Linked DNA regions of Homo sapiens. The protein of the gene in region 1 purifies or fractionates together with the protein of each later gene. This does not show direct contact. Each region holds a gene or a part of one and is shown in the gene's direction. Other genes may lie near its edges.

Region 1 (8,190 bases):
TGCGGAAAGAAGCCGGCATAGCTGTGGAGGGAAGAGAAGAAGGCAGGGCAGGTCTCAAGGGCAGCCCCAGCACTGGGCAGGGCCCCTTCAAGCCAGATGTGGATTCAGCCTGCTGGCCACTTAGCAGCAGGTTGGCCTGTGGCAGCTCGCCTGCCCTCTGCTCACCTGTAAATGGGGCTGCAGTGGCACTTGCCTTCTAGAGCTCTCTCAGCCTGAACAGGCGGCACACACCACATGCTGGGAACACGTCAGCACCACAGCAGATGGCCGCCTGCCTTGTACCAGCCCCTCCAACCCTCTCCCACCCCTCATTCCAACTGCCAGCAAATCAGGGGTGCTCTGCCCTGGCAAAGCAAGTACAGGCACAAGACGTGTGGGCCAGGACATAGGCGAGGGACGGACCCTTGGACACACGCAGGGCCCACCAGGAGGGTGTTGCGTGGGCTTGGCCTGCACCTGTGCCACCCCAGGAGGCCAGTAGCCTCCTGCACGGGAAGAGAACTGGGAGGCAGGTGGAGGGCTGGGCTTTTCCGGGCCCTCATTCAACCTCGAGGGGCATGGTGCAGGTGGTCACAGGCGGTTCAGCGCCTCAGGGTCTATGTGATCTTTCAAGGAGTGAGAACTACCTTCGTCTTAAAAACTGCCAAAGGGCCGGGCGCGGTGGCTCACGCCTGTCATCCCAGCACTTTGGGAGGCTGAGGCGGGCGGATCACGAGGTCAGGAGATCAAGACCATCCTGGCCAACATGGTGAAACCCTGTCTCTATTAAAAATGCAAAAAGTTATCCAGGCATTGGTGGCGGGCCCTGTAGTCCCAGCTGCTCGGGAGGCTGAGGCAGGAGAATGGCGTGAACCCAGGAGGCGGAGCTTGCAGTGAGCCAAGATCGCCCCACTGCACTCCAGCCTGGGCAACAGAGCGAGACTCCGTCTCAAAAGAAAAAAAAAAGCCGAGCAACTTCCAGCCTCAGCTTCACCTGCCCCTTCCCCAGACGTAGCTGTTCAGAGGCAGGTGTGGTTTCTTCCCAGCCTTTCCCCTTTGCATGTAGCGTGTGTGTATGTAGGTGCACACACACACACGTTCCGTAGAGGGGTTACTTTTATTTTTTGTTTGGGGGGATATCTAGTGAGGCAGCCTGGCGTTTGCTTGCCTTGTCTTTAAAGTGTGGAGTCCTGGCCGGGCGTGGTGGCTTAAGCCTGTCATCCCAGCACTTTGGGAGGCCGAGGTGGGCAGATCACTTGAGGTCAGGAGTTCGAGACCAGCCTGACCAACATAAAGAAACCTCGTCCCTACTAAAAATACAAAATTAGCCAGGTGTGGTGGCAGATGCCTGTAATCCCAGCTACTCCGGAAGCTGAGACAGGAGAATCGCTTGAACCTGGGAGGCAGAGGTTGCGGTAAGCCAAGATTGCACCATTGCATTCCAGCCTGGGTAATAAGAGCGAAACTCTGTCTCAAAAAATAAATAAATAAAATGAAATGAAGTGTGGAGTCCTCTCTGGAGTGGGCGTCGGGCACTTACTAGCCGGCCTCTGCCGGCTGCTGGCTGACCCAGTTTCTGCTCGACAGACGTGCTGGCCACCAGGTATCGAGTTCGCAGCTGCACACCAGCAGGGAGGGTGAGGCCTGGGCCCCTGGCAACCCCATCCCTGAGCTTCCCCTGTCCCAGGGCTCCCCAGCCCACAGACTGCAGTGCCCCGTGGTGTGGCCTTCAGTTTCCTGGGGTCCAGCTCTGGGCCCCTCACAGCTGGCCTCCATGCCTCAGGCCCCAGCCATTCTCCCCCTCCTGCAGCCCTGGCCCCAGCCACCTCCAGAGCTCCCGGCTCTCACCCAGGGACATAGTGAGGCTCCGGCGTGAAGAGATCGTGTTTCTGAGTAGTTGTCATTTTGCTTTCACTCTGGCCTTGCTGGCTCCAGTCCCTCCCGGCATCCAGCTCCCTTCCCTGAGGGGAGTCCTGTCACCGGGCAACCATTGTGAGGGGCCAGCATTGTGGGCACCTCCTGGGCCAGGCCACCTCGCTAACCCTGTGAGGGCCCACATTGCACAGGTGAGACACTGAGGCCCAGACAGGTGCCAGGCAGGGGAGGAGTTGCGGTGAGGCAGGTGGTCCGGGAGGAAGTCCCATTAACTTCAGAGCTCAGAAAACAGGACTGTCCCTCCAGAAAGGGCCTGGGCTCTTGCTGCCCCCAGGAGGCCACCAGCCCCAGTCTCAGGGTGAGGCTAAGGGAGTCCCCAGGCCCCCTCCTCTGACAGGAGGCCTTGCAGCTGCAGAGCCTTGGCTCGAGTCAGGGGCTTCCCGGCCTGCAGGGCTGTGCGAACTCTCCCTCCAGCCCTTCATGTGGCGCAGGGTGTTATGTTTACATTTTAAGCAAATCCTGAATTTTGTTCTTTTTTTGTACAGGAAGGACTTCCTAACCATAAAAATGAAGGAAGGCGGCCAGGCACGGTGGCTCACACCTGTAATCCCAGCACTTTGGGAGGCCGAGGCAGGCAGATCATGTCAGGAGTTCGAGACCAGCCTGACTGACATAGTCAAATCCCGTCTCTACTAAAAATACAAAAATTAGCCAGGTGCGGTGGCGTGCGCCTGTAGTCCCAGCTACTCGGGAGGCTGAGGCAGGAGAATGGCGTGAACCCAGGAGGTGGAGATTGCAATGAGCTGAGATCGTGCCACTGCACTCCAGCCTGGGCCACAGAGTGAGACTCTGTCTCAAAAAAAAAAAAAAAAAAAGAAAGAAAGAAGAAAGGCTGGGCACTGTGGCTCATGCCTATAATTGCGGTGCTTTCGGAGGCCGAGGCAGGATGAGGTGTGCAGATTGCTTGAGCCTAGGAGTTCAGGCCAGCTGGGCAACATGGGGAAACCCCACCTCTACAAAAAAGAAAGAAAAATTAGCCAGGCATGGTGAATGTGCCTGTGATCCCAGTTACTTGGGAGGCTGAGGTGGGAGGATGGCCAGAGCCTAGGAGGTTGAGGCTGTAGTGAGCTGAGATCGCACCGCTGCACTTCAGCCTGGGCAACAGAACCAGACCATTTCTCACAAACAAACAAAAAAACAACTAAAAGGCAAACTAAAAAACTGGAAAAAAGTTTGCAGTAAGTGCTATGAACAAATCTGGTATCAGCATAAAAAGCTCTCACAAAACAAAGATATAAACAACACCTCCATGGAAAATGCAGACTAATATGGTTTTTTTTTTTGTATTTTTAGTAGAGACAGGGTTTCACCATGTTAGCCAGGATGGTCTCGAACTCCTGACCTCGTGATCCGCCCACCTCGGCCTCCCAAAGTGCTGGGATTACAGGCGTGAGCCACTGTGCCCGGCCAATATGACCTTTTTAAGAAAAAAAGACCGCAGTCCGTAAATATAAGGGCATAAAGCAGGACCATAATCACATACATGCTGACTGTGTGTTGAGAGCAGTTTCTGAGGCTTACTGCCGGCAGGGTCACAGTGAGAAGGGCCTCTAATTTGGGTGGTGCCTTCTGGAAACCAAGTTGGTATGGATCACGTCCATACAAGACACTGCAAACTGGGACCATTGCTTCCACTCCTAAGAAGCTGTCTGGCATTCTGGTAGACGCTGGTTTTCCTCCACCGTTCCTGGCTGGTAATTCCCATATTCCCATAGCCCTTGGTAGGGCCTTTTGTTAGAATGTTGGGTGGGTGATGCTTGGGGGGTGCGGGCGGGGGACTTTTACCTCCTGCCCTCCTTTCACCTGCCCCAAGGCAGGACGCTAACATTCTCACCTTTCTGACTGTGGGTCTTAAGACCCTTCCAGGAGAGGTCCCACCTAAGCCCTGGGGGCAGGAATGCTGACATCAGGAAGCTTCCGTAAAATCCCAAGAGGACTGAGGCTCAGGGAACTTCTGGACAGGGGAACACCTGGAGGTTCCCAGAGGGCGGCAACTAGCGAGGACATGGAAGCGCCAGCCCCTCCCCGTGCCTCTCTCTACGCTTCTTCATTGGTATCCTTTGCAATCAATACCCTTTACAATAAACCAGTAAACGTCATAACTTCCCTAGTTCTATGAGTGGCTCCAGCAAATTAACCCAAAGACGGTGTCACAGGAACCCCAAATTGAAGCTAGTTGGTCAGAAGTTCCAGGGGCCCAGGCTTGCGACTGGTGTGTGTCTGGAGGCCCTGCCCCTATCTGTGTCTGGAGGCCTTCTTGGGATGGAGCTCTCACCCTGTGGGATCTGACACCATCTCCAGGTAAATGGTGAAGGAAATGAATTAGAGGACACCCAGCTTGGTGTGTGGGGAACAACCCCCCTCCCTCAACATTTGGGCAGAGGCCTCCTTCTGTGACGGCTGTGGTGGTGTGGGCGCAGAGCCGGACACTGAGAGAGCATTTCCCCCACGCACCTTCTCAAGGAGAGGATGGATGTCCAGCAGCACCATTCACGGTGGCAACGTTTATTACAGGGCAGGGAGGACCTGGAGGAGCCTATCTGTCCAATGACAAGGGCTTCATTAGCAAAGTACACTCTGTTCCACTGGCAGCCAGTCAACTCTGAACCCGGCACAACCTGGGCAGGGGCCCCGGAGCACAGGCGTGAACCCCTCGCCCAGATAAAACCCGTGTTTCCTCAAGCACGTGTCCATCTGTCTGCCTGGCAGGCCCAGTGCTGAAGGGGAGGCATCCAGAGAGGGCGGAGGAGGGCCCCAAGTTGGCCCTGTTCACAGGCCCTGCCCTGGTGGATTCTGGGCCAAGGTCAGGGCTGGGACCAACTGGTGGTCAGCTCCAGAGACCACACAGTGAGGGCCCTGGTGCCCACACGGGCTCTTGCTCACACAGGCTGGCTGTTCCTTTGCAGCTCTGGCAGCCCGGCCATCTGTGACACCCTCTAGCCTCTGTGCCCCCAGGTGAGAGGTAGGCCCTCACACCCCAGCCCTGGCTGGGCTCCAAGGCCCGGCCTGCCTCTGGTGTCAGACCCATCTGATGTGGATTTGCTTTTCCCTTAAGTGGAAATCCAGATGGGGTGGCGGCTCCTCCTCTTCCTCCAGGGAGCCTTCCTGGGCCCCTCCCTCCTACCCCCAGGGGGTCCTGGCTGGCCAGACACAGCTGGGCATCTCCTAGGGCTTGGTGGATGCCGGTGGGTCCTGTTCCCTCCACCCCCTCTGCTGAGGCCTCAGTCCTCCCAGACCTGCTAGAGTGGACCCCAGACTCCCAGGAGACCCCAGGGTGCAGGAGAGGGGAGAAGGCTGGAAAGGTTGCGGGGAGGGAGAGGGCTGGGCCAGGAGTCACCGGGGCAGGCTGGGGGTCCTGGCCCAGGCGGACCCGCTGATCATCTAGTTAGTGGGGGAGGGGCCCACCAGGGGTCGGGGCCCGGGGCAGCCCCTCCAGGGCCAGACAATGTGTCTTCCTCAGGAGTCCCAGCAACAGAGGGGCCTACCAGTGAGGTCACAGAGCTCCGTGGTGCCGTTGGGGAAGAGAGCCAGGAGACTCTGATGATGAATTCTGACCAGAAGGCAGTGAAATTCCTGGCAAATTTTTACATCAATGGAGGCAAACACTGGACCCATGGTCACCTGAGGCAGACACAACCAGAGCCCACCCAGTAACTGGCGGAGAGGGGGAGAAGGGGCGGGCCAGCTGGGAGTGGCCAGGGGGCTGAGGGACAGTGTGGGGGGCAGGTTGCTGGGCAGGCGGCTGGGGGACTGAGGGACAGTGTGGGGACAGGCTGTGGGGCAGGCGGCTGGGAGCGGCCAGGGGCTGAGGGACAGTAGAGGGGACAGGCGGCTGGGAGCGGCCAGGGGCTGAGGGACAGTGTGGGGACAGGCTGTGGGGCACGTGGCTGGGAGCAGCCGGGGGCTGAGGGACAATAGAGGGGACAGGCTGTGGGGCATGTGGCTGGGAGCGGCCGGGGGCTGAGACAGTGGCTGCTGGTCTCCCTTGCAGGCCCAAGGCATCTGTGCTGTTGTTGGGCCCGGAGCCGGGGATGGCCTGGGATGAGACACAGCCCCCAAAGATGAAGGAGATCCCAGTTGGCCTCAGGTTACAGACGGGCACCCCCCAGGAGTCCCTGCCCACCTACACCCAGACCCTGAGGGAACTATGTGAGTGAGGGTCCTGGCCACCCCACCCCCAAGCTGGTCTTTGGGGGGCTGTGGGAGGGGCCCGCTGAAAGGAGCCCAGGCCCAGAGCTTGCTTCCTGTGGCCAGTGCTGGAGCAACGCCCCCTGATCACAGCTGACCTGGAAGTCCCCAGCCCCACCAGGTACCAGGTGCCGAGCCCGTCCGTACGAGAGTCCTCCCCACACCCCCACTACAGCATCGGCTGCAAGCACCAGGGCCGAGGTGTGTGTCCCCTCCCTGAGGCCCAACCACCGGGCCTGTCCCTCACCCTGGGAATGGGGGCCTTTGCCTCTGTGCTGAAACCCCCACGGCCTGAGGGCCCCTCCACCCTTCCCTGCGTTCACCTCTAGGCTCAGCACCTGTAAGGAGGCCTGGAGAGAGGAGGGCTAGGGCTGGGGCATGGGTGGACATTGTGAAGACAAGGGTTCAGGGGCCGAGGGTGGGAACCGGGAGACAGGTTCGAGTGGGGACTGTCACCTGGGTGGGGCTCCCAGCCTTCTCTCTCTCCATCCTCCAACTACAGAGGGCGGTGGCCGCAGGGCATGGCAGACTTTGTGGTTCCAGAGCGAAAGCCCCTTCACGCAGAAAGCTGACTTCGACCAAGAGCAAAAGGTTGGGGGCTGGGCAGGAAGGGGGCGGGGAGTCCACGCAGGCAGGGGGCTGGGGGTTCCAGTGGGGCCAAAGGGGGGCTGGCTGAGGGTCCGTGGGGAGCACCCTGCCCTGCAGCCCGTCTCCTACCCCCTCGCAGTGGCCCTCGCCAGCCCACTACCAGCTGCTCAGCCGGCCCGCCTTCCCCGCCTTCAGCTTCAGAGGCTGCCACTCCGCTTCCAAGACACCTGAAGGCCACACCCACCTAGGGCTGCCTGGGGCTAGGGGGCTGGGCCTCAGGGTGCAGCCCCAGTCCCTGCTTCAGGCCTCTTTGCAGGCACCTGGCAAGAGATGCCCTGGCCCCAACACCTACAATATCCTTCCTGGGAGCCGCCTGCAGAGCCCCCGCTCGCCGGCCTTCTCGATGAGCCGCTCCCCTGCGTTCACCTCCTGGCTCAGCACCTGTAAGGAGGCCTGGAGAGAAGAGGGCTAGGGATGGGGCATGGGTGGGCAATGTGAGGACAAGGGTTCAGGGGCCGGGGGTGGGAACTGGGAGCCAGGTTTGAGTTGGGGCTGCTACCTGGGTGGGGCTCCCAGCCTTCTCTTTCGGCAGCCCGAACCCCTGGCCCAGCCGCCTACCACGTGGAGGACTGCAACTCACGCTTCCCTTCGGCGCCTGGCGTGGTCATCCAGGGTGTACGCAGACCCAAGCGCCACGACACAGGCCCCTTCTGCACGCTCTAGAGCCAGCTGGGCACAACCTGCTTGGCCCGGCCACCGAGTGGAACCATGGCCTCCCCCGGGGCTTTCCCAGGCCTCCCCTGGGACTTGGGGCCCCAGCCTGGCCTTCTGACCCTCTGGGCACCCCGATGCACCCTTCTGGCTGGCCAACCCTTCTATGGGCTGTGGACAAGGCTGGCCCAGCCTGGATCCCCCATCTGCCCATCTCCCCGCTACACTGAGATGCTGTTGGTTTTCCCGAGCTCTGTGGTGTGCAGTTGTCTGTCCTTCACCCGGGGGCGGTCCTAGAGATATGGCTGCCGCTGGGTCATTTCCGGCTTTCCCTGTTGAGGGGTCTCCATTCAGCTGCCCCTGAAAGGTGCTCTCTTCTCTAGGGTGGCAGCCTGTGACTGACCCTGAGCTCTAGCCTGGAGCGAGATGGGAGGTGGGCTCTGTGGGACACCCCCACCCAGCCGTGTCACTCAGGGGCCTGGTCTAGCTGCTGTCCACCTGAGGGTCAGCTGCTTGCCGAGCCAGGGAACTGGGAAGGAGGCGTCAAATGCCCTGAGCCGCCACCTCCAGGTGGGGTCGGCCTGGCCAGACCTCAGGAAGGGCCCAGGGATCTGCTCACCAGGGCCCAGCCCCACTTCCCCTAGGCCTTGAGCTGAAGACCTGGCTGGGCTTAGTCACCTGTGCCCTGAACACTCTGGCCCAGGGCCCTGCAGACTCCACTCCCGGGGCCTTCACCTGCTGGGACCCTGCACTGCCCCTGCCTGCAACTTCGCCTGGCTGGGGCCTCCC
Region 2 (8,291 bases), on another chromosome or scaffold:
CATGGTCGCACACACCAGTGGTCTAACCTGTGGGAGGATCGCTTGAGCCCAGGAGATTGAGGCTGCAGTGAGCTGTGATCGCATCACTGCACTCCAGCCTGGGCAACAGAGTGAGACCCTGTATCTAAAAATTAAAATAAAAAAATTCAGGCCGGGCACGGTGGGCTCACGCCTGTAATCCCAGCACTTTGGGAGGCCGAGGTGGGCGGATCACCTGAGGTCAGGAGTTTGAGACCAGCCTGACCAACATGGAGAAACCCCGTGTCTACTAAAAATACAAAAAAAAATTAGCCAGGTGTGGTGGCTTATGCCTGTAATCCCAGCTACTCGGGATTACTGAGGCGGGAGAATTGCTTGAACCTGGGAGGCAGAGGTTGCGGTGAGCCGAGATTGCACTATTGCATTCCAGCCTGGGCAACAAGAGCAAAACTCTGTCTCAAAAAAAAAAAAAAAAAATTCAGACAGCCACCAGCGGCTACACTGTCCTGGGCAGCTCAGCATTGGGGCATTCCCTGTGAGAATCTTGCAACAGGGGGAAGACAGCGACCAAACTTACAAATGTGATTAGAACTGGCAAGACCCCTTAGGGGCAGCGAACTTGTTCTTTTTTTTTTTTTTTTTTTTTTTTTTTGAGATGGAGCCTCTGTCGCCCAGGCTGGAGTGCAGTGGCGTGATCTCGGCTCACCGCAAGCTCCACCTCCCGGGTTCACACCATTCTCCTGCCTCAGCCTCCCCAGTAGCTGGGACTACAGGTGCCCGCCACCACACCCGGCTAATTTTTTGTGTATTTTTTAGTAGAGACGGGGTTTCACCGTGTTAGCCAGGATGGTCTGGATCTCCTGACCTCGTGATCCGCCCGCCTTAGCATCCCAAAGTGCTGGGGTTACAGGCGTGAGCCACTGTGCCCAGCTGAACTTATTCTTAAAGCAAGTGCCCCGGACCTCCAGTGGGCCTGTTCTGGTGCCTTCTACCAGGGTCAGCTCAGACAGTTCAGCGTCAAAGCCAAAGACTAGAGACCAGGTGATTACGGTTTCTTTGGAGACAGAGTCTCACCCTGTCACTCAGACTGGAGTGCACTGGCGCAATCTTGGCTCATGGCAACCTCCGCCTCCTGGGTTCAAGTGATTCTCCTGCCTCGGCCTCCTTAGTAGCTGGGATTACAGTCACCCACCAAAGTACCTGGCTAATTTTTTTTTTTTTTTTGGTATTTTTAGTGGAGATGGGGTTTCACCGTGTTGGCCAGGCTGGTCTTGAGCTCCTGGCCTCAAGTGACCCACCTAACTCTGCCTCCCAAAGTGTTGGTGTTACAGGTGTGAGCCACCGCGCCCGGCCAAGACCAGGTGATTAAAATTTGGTTGTAGGCAGGTGCAGTTGCTTATGCCCGTGGTCCCAGCTACTCCGGAAAATGAGCGGGGAGGATCGCTTGAGCCCAAGAATTCAAGGCTGCAGTGAGTCATGATTGCAGCCCTGCACGCCAGCCTGGGTGACAGAGCAAGACTTGGTCTTTTTTTTTTTTTTTTTTTTTTGAGACAGAGTCTCGCTCTTTCGCCCAGGTTGGAGTGCAGTGGCGCGATCTCGGCTCACTGCAAGCTCCATCTCCTGGGTTCACGCCATTCTCCTGCCTCAGCCTCCCGAGTAGCTGGGACTACAGGCGCCCGCCATCACGCCCGCCTAATTTTTGTATTTTTTGGTAGAGACGGGGTTTCACTGTGTTAGCCAGGAGGGTCTCGATCTCCTGACCTCATGATCCACCCGCCTCGGCCTCCCAAAGTGCTTGGATTACAGGCGTGAGCCACCACGCCCGGCCAAGACTTGGTCTCTTAAAAAATGGAGGAAAGAAAACACAGTCTCTTTTTTTCCCCTGAGATAGCTTATCCTAAGGACAAGGCTCTGAGGGGTAAGGAGACAGGGTTTGGTTTTAGTTTTGACTCTCTTGGTCCTGTGTCCCTGGGACTGGTGAGTCCACCAGGGACTGCACTCCTCCATCTCCCAGGCCGTCCGTGGCCAGGGCCAGTTGGCGGAGGGGAGGGAGTTGATGGAGCTGGTGGGTGGGGCTCCCAGGGCCATGCTCCCACCCAGCCCACCCCCTGCTGGAGCACTGCTGGGCCCCAGCGACCCTGCCCCATACTTGGCAGGCCCTGACTGCAGAGATCGTGAAGACCATCCGGGACATCATTGCCTTGAACCCTCTCTACAGGTGGGCCTCTGTGCGGGCAGCTGGCCAGGCGGGGGCATCTCTGCAGCTCTTTCTGCAGCTGGGTGGGTAGGGGGCTTCCTCAGCGTCCTCCTGGGAGGAAACCTTGCCTGCCCCAAGGAGTGGCCTGTGTGGAGGAGCCCGTTGCCCACTGGGGCATGGGGCAGGTGGGAGGCCCGGGGCCGACTCAGCAGGCCCAGTTTCTTTGTCCCCTTCTGCTGAGGCCGGAAGCTGTTGGTGGCATTGGCTGGGGGAGTGGGGAGCAGACTGCTGAGGTGAGGTCACTGCACGGCTCCCGTGGTGGCTGCACGTGAGGATGCTGCATGCCTTTCCAGCCCAGGACGGGTGGGCCCTGAACTCTGGAGAACAAGCAGCAGAGCTGGCTCCCAGCGAGCACCCCTAGACCGTGCCCATAGCTACAGGGGACAGGGACCCTGAGGACCGGGTCCCCGTTTGGGGGCTGCACTGCAGCAGAGCGTGAGGCCCTGGCCACCGAGGCAGCTCCCTTTGTCCCCCAGGGAGTCAGTGCTGCAGATGATGCAGGCTGGCCAGCGGGTGGTGGACAACCCCATCTACCTGAGCGACATGGGCGCCGCGCTCACCGGGGCCGAGTCCCATGAGCTGCAGGACGTCCTGGAAGAGACCAATGTGAGTGCTCGTCACCTCCACAGCCCCCCACGCCTGGCTGCACCCCACCTCCACTATGCTCCGCCCACGCCCGGCTGCCCCCGTTCCTCCTCAGCTCCCCCATGCCTGGCTGCCCTTGTCCCTCCACCGTGCACCATCCACACCCAGCTGTGTGTCCCTGGCTCTGTTTTTGAGATGATTTCCCGCTGCGTGTCTTGGTCCACATCCATCCGCCTTTCGGTGGCTTCATAGCCTTCGGTTGGGAGTCACCGTTGCGGGTTCAGTGGGATCCTCTGGGCCGTGTACCCGGGGCGTTGCCAGTCTTTTGCTGTTGTGAGCAGCACTCCTGAGCGCGTCCCCATGCACGCAGCTGGAGGGCCTGTGAAGTATCCGTAGGATGCGTTTCCAGCACGGGATTTGTTGGGGCAGAGGGCACACATGCCTCTGTGCTGGGTACAGCATGGCCAGGTCCTCCCGGCAGCATCTCTCAGGGTGCGCATTTTCCCCCAACCTCGGCCCTACACACACAGATGCCGACTTCTGCTCATCCTTTCTGTCCTCCCTGTCTCGGCAGATTCCTAAGCGGCTGTACAAGGCCCTCTCCCTGCTGAAGAAGGAATTTGAACTGAGCAAGCTGCAGCAGCGCCTGGGGCGGGAGGTGAGCCCGCGGCTGAGGCGCAGCCACTCTTGGGGGCCTTCCCCTCGGGCCACGTGACATCAGTCAGGCTCTGGAGCACACGGAGGGACCGGTGGCATCGGCCAGGGCAAGCCAAGAAGGCCTGTCTGGGTTTTGAGGGCTTCGTGCCATCATCTGCTCTGTCGTCCTGGGCTGTGGAACTCTCCGCGTTGAACAGGGAAGCTTAAAGCTGGTCCCAGTGTAATGAGCCCAGGGTGGAGCAGTCTCAGGACCGTCCAACATTAAGGGAAGAATTCCTTTGCCTTTGTAATCTTGGGGACAGTGTTGGAAATTGGAAAGCAGCCTGGGAAAAGTGAAGATGCTGTTTCTTAAGACCCAGCCATTGAGGCTCGCTGTCATGATTTTCGGCAGATCACAGCCTGCCTGATGGCCGGTCACCTCACGGTCGTAGCATTTTTCAGAATTTTTTACTTTAAGACAGGGTCTCAGTCGGCCACCTAGGCTGGAGTGCAATGGCGCAATCTCAGCTCACTACAGCCTCCACCTCCAGGGCTCAAGTGATCCTCCCACCTCAGCCTCCCGAGTAGCTGGGATTACAGGCGTGCAATACCACACCGGCTAATTTTTGTATTTTAGTAGAGACAGGGTTTCACCATGTTGGCCAGGCTGGTCTTGAACTCCTGGCCTCAAGTGATCCGCCCGCTTCAGCCTCCCAAAGTGCTAGGATTACAGGCGTGAGCCACCGCGCCTGGCCCCATCTCTACAAAAAATTTTAAAATTAGAGCCAGGTGTGGCAGGTGCCTGTGGTCCCAGTTACTCAGGAGGCTAAGGCAGGAGGATCGCTTGAGCCCAGGAGGTGGAGGCTACGGTGAGCTATGATGGTGCCTTTGCACTCCAGCCTGGGTAACACAGGTAGACCCTGTCTCAAAAACAAAAGAAGATGGAAGGAACCAAAGGCTTCGTGCTCTGGGTTTCGTTTCTTTTCTCTCTGAGTCCTGGGGGAGCAGAGGGTCCCCCTTCGTCTGGGGACGCACCCACCCACCCAGCTTCCCGGAGCCAGGGCCTGATGGCAGCACCTCACCCCACAGGTGGAGGAGAAGATCAAGCAGACCCACCGTAAGTACCTGCTGCAGGAGCAGCTAAAGATCATCAAGAAGGAGCTGGGCCTGGAGAAGGACGACAAGGATGCCATCGAGGAGAAGTTCCGGGAGCGCCTGAAGGAGCTCGTGGTCCCCAAGCACGTCATGGATGTTGTGGACGAGGAGCTGAGCAAGCTGGGCCTGCTGGACAACCACTCCTCGGAGTTCAAGTGAGTGCCAGGCCCGGGGCGGCCCAGCCCTCAGGTGACCCCTCCTCAGCCCCCATCTTAGGCAGGCCAGGGGACCCAGCGGGGAGCCCCGTGGCACCTTCTTGGTGTGGCAGGTGCGGGCTGGGAGGCATCCAGCGAGTATCAGCCCTGTTCTGGGCAGGACACATCATCACCATCTCCATTCTACAAGGAAATCGAGGCTCGGGGCTGTTGAGCTGGTGGCCAGGGCCTGTGAATTGGCAGGTGGTGCCACGGATTTGAGCCCAGGGACGCCTGGCTCTAAGCCAGGGCTGCTTTTTTTTTTTTTTTTTTTTGAAATGGAGTCTCGCTCAGTTGTCCAGACTGGAGTGCAGTGGCACAATCTTGGCTCACTGCAACTTCCGCTTTGCGGGTTCAAGCAATTCTCCTGCTTCAGTCCCCCAAGTATCTGGGACTATAGGCATGCACCACCACGCCTGGTTAATTTTTTGTATTTTTAGGAGACATGGGGTTTCACCATGTTGTTCAGGCTGGTCTCGAACTCCTGACCTCAAATGATCCGGCTGCCTTGACCTGCCAAAGTGCTAGGATTACAGGCGCGAGCCACCATGCCTGGCTTTTTTTTTTTTTTAAGACAGAGTCTTGCTCTGTTGTCCAGGCTGGAGTACAGTGGTGCAATGTTGGTTCACTGCAACCTCCACCTCCCAGGTTGAAACGATTCTACTGCCTCAACTTCCTGAGTAGCTGGGATTACAGGCATGTGCCACCACACCCAGCTAATTTTTAGTATTTTTAGTAGAGATGGGGTTTTGCCATGTTGGCCAGGTTGGTCTCAAACTCCTGACCTCAAGGGATCCGCCCACCTTGCCCTCCCAAAGTGCTGGGATTACAGGCATGAGCCACCACGCCTGGCCTAAGCCAGGCCTTCTCGCCAGGACCAGGAGTCCCCATGGCTGTCTTTGCAAGGCTACCCCTGGCTTCTGTTGCCCCTTCGAGAGTCAGCCAGGAAGTGACCATGCCTTCCCGCAGCACTGGCCTTGCCCGGGGGCCACTGTCCTGAGCATGCCATGAGTCAGGGTGGCCGCCCCAGGTTTGAGGGCCTCAGGTACCTCTGAGATCCTTTCAGCCATGCCCATGTCCAGCCAGGACAGAACCCACCTGGCCACTTCCCATGCAGCATGCTCTGTTTTCAGCCCAGGAACCAGTTGTCACGCCAGGGCAGCTTCTAGGCAGAAGTCCCCGGGGCAGGGCTGGGCAGGCCGTAGGACAGCGCTTAGAGGGAAGGCATGAGTTTCTTTCCTGGCTGCTGGCCCAGGACCCCGCCTCAGATTTGAATGTCACGGTCGCCGGAGTCTCTCCCCCAGGGCCCTGAGAGGCACTGGTTGCGCGCGAAGGCTGTGGCTTCCCCTCCCAGCACGCCCCGATTTCGGTGAGTGGCCTGTGAGCTCCCATGGCTGCTCCGACGGTGCCACAACTTAGTGCCTTACACAATGCCGAGCCCTGAGATCCCGCTGTGGGCCGGGCCCGTCCCTCCCAGAGGCTCCAGAGGAGAATCCGTTTCCTGCCTTTCCCAGTATCTGGAGGCGCCCGCATCCCTCGGCTCGGGGCCCCTTCCTCCTTCACAGCCACAGCGCAGCCTCTTCCAGTCAGTCTCTCACCTCCCACCGCCTGTCGTGAGGACCTGGTGAGGAACCTGGGCCCCCTGGGTCACCCAGAATGCTCTCCTGTCTCGGGGACCTTCACTCAGCCCCATCTGCAGTTCCCTGCTGCCATGTGAGAGGCCTGTGCCGCCGCCTCCTGTGGGGGGAGAACGTAGATGTTTTCGGGGTTCTTCTGTCTCCCAGCGAGTGCCTCAGCTGCCCTTGGGCTGGTGGAAGTACCTGCTCAGACCGGGCCTTGTCCTGCAGAAGCAGATAGCTCCTTCCCCCAGGAGCTGAGGGGGTCTGTAAGGCGGGTTCTGTCCTCAGGTCCTGGGAAGTCACGGGGGACAAGCCCTCAGTACCTGCGTGTCACCAAGATGCCTGCAGCAGGCTGCCAGCTACCTCTCCCACCCAGAATGCTCTCCGCAAAGTGTCACTGCCTGTGTCACTTCCACAGTGACTTCATGTGTCTCTAAACTCCAGCATCCGTGTGGCCCAGCTGGCCTGTCCCGGTGCGTCTCGTATGCCCGTTGGGTGGCAGTGCGCCCTGACGGTGTCTGCTCGTGGGGCCGCCTGGCCCTTCCTCGGAAGCCGTCCTCCTCTTCATCCTCTTCCCCAATCCTGCCGTGTGCTCTTGCAGCCCTCACTGACTTGCTCCTGGCCCATAGTGGCCGCTGCTCACTGCTGCACGGCTCCCAACTTGGGGACCAATATGGAGTTGCCCTCCCAACCTTCAGCGTCACTCTCCCGGCAGGGGACCTGGCCTCCATTTCCCCACCTGCCCTGGGTCAGGCCTTGTCCCATTTTCTAAGCCTCGTCCCCTCTGTGGTTCTGCTCACTCAGCCCTGGGCAGAAGCCAGTGCCGTCTTGGCTCTCCTGATGAGTCAGCAGTGGACCTCCGGCCATCTCCTCCTTCCTGCACTGGGTGCTTTGGACAGGGCAGTTTGTAAATTTTTTTTTTTTTTTTTTTTTGAGATGGAGTCTCACTCTGTTGCCCAGGCTGGAGTGCAGTGGCACGATCTCGGCTCACTGCAAGCTCCGCCTCTCGGGTTCATGCCATTCTCCTGCCTCAGCCTCCCGAGTAGCTGGAACTACAGGTGTCCGCTGCCACGCCCAGCTAATTTTTTTTTTTTTTTTTATTGATCATTCTTGGGTGTTTCTCGCAGAGGGGGATTTGGCAGGGTCATAGGACAATAGTGGAGGGAGGGTCAGCAGATAAACAAGTGAACAAGGGTCTCTGGTTTTCCTAGGCAGAGGACCCTGCGGCCTTCCGCAGTGTTTGTGTCCCTGGGTACTTGAGATTAGGGAGTGGTGATGACTCTTAACCAGCATGCTGCCTTCAAGCATCTGTTTAACAAAGCACATCTTGCACCGCCCTTAATCCATTTAACCCTGAGTGGACACAGCACATGTTTCAGAGAGCACAGGGTTGGGGGTAAGGTCACCGATCAACAGGATCCCAAGGCAGAAGAATTTTTCTTAGTACAGAACAAAATGAAAAGTCTCTCATGTCTACTTCTTTCTACACAGACACGGCAACCATCCGATTTCTCAATCCTTTCCCCCTTTTCTATTCCACAAAACTGCCATTGTCATCATGGCCCGTTCTCAATGAGCTGTTGGGTACACCTCCCAGATGGGGCGGCTGGCCGGGCGGGGGGCTGACCCCCACTCCTCCCTCCCAGAGGGGGCGGCTGGCCAGGCAGAGGGGCTCCTCACTTCCCAGTAGGGGCGGCCGGGCAGAGGCGCCCCTCACCTCCCGGACGGGGCGGCTGGCCGGGCGGGGGGCTGACCCCCCCACCTCCCTCCCGGACGGGGCGGCTGGCTGGGCGGGGGGCTGACGCCTCCACCTCCCTCCCGGATGGGGCAGCTGGCCTGGTGGGGGGCTGACCCCCCCCCCAACCT

The links.
Region 2: the proteins of STPG3 (region 1) and LONP1 purify together in Homo sapiens (affinity purification with mass spectrometry; 3 studies listed by BioGRID and IntAct, with this or other methods). This does not show direct contact.

Annotation. Positions count from the first base shown.
Region 1 is NC_000009.12:137,245,833-137,254,022, forward strand, and holds STPG3 (protein STPG3), read left to right. Parts: upstream 1-5,453; 5' UTR 5,454-5,454; coding exon 5,455-5,564; exon of another isoform or gene 5,565-5,905; coding exon 5,906-6,063; exon of another isoform or gene 6,064-6,168; coding exon 6,169-6,303; exon of another isoform or gene 6,304-6,604; coding exon 6,605-6,693; exon of another isoform or gene 6,694-6,829; coding exon 6,830-7,133; exon of another isoform or gene 7,134-7,266; coding exon of another isoform or gene 7,267-7,282; coding exon 7,283-7,413; coding exon of another isoform or gene 7,414-7,631; 3' UTR 7,632-7,651; downstream 7,652-8,190. Other genes in the region: CIMIP2A (ciliary microtubule inner protein 2A), read right to left, coding at 1-21, 1,828-1,952, 4,369-4,404.
Region 2 is NC_000019.10:5,702,248-5,710,538, reverse strand, and holds part of LONP1 (lon protease homolog, mitochondrial isoform 1 precursor), read left to right. Parts: intron 1-2,135; coding exon 2,136-2,197; intron 2,198-2,712; coding exon 2,713-2,842; intron 2,843-3,395; coding exon 3,396-3,479; intron 3,480-4,546; coding exon 4,547-4,767; intron 4,768-6,320; coding exon of another isoform or gene 6,321-6,423; exon of another isoform or gene 6,424-6,808; intron 6,809-8,291. UniProt on the Homo sapiens protein: ATP-dependent serine protease that mediates the selective degradation of misfolded, unassembled or oxidatively damaged polypeptides as well as certain short-lived regulatory proteins in the mitochondrial matrix.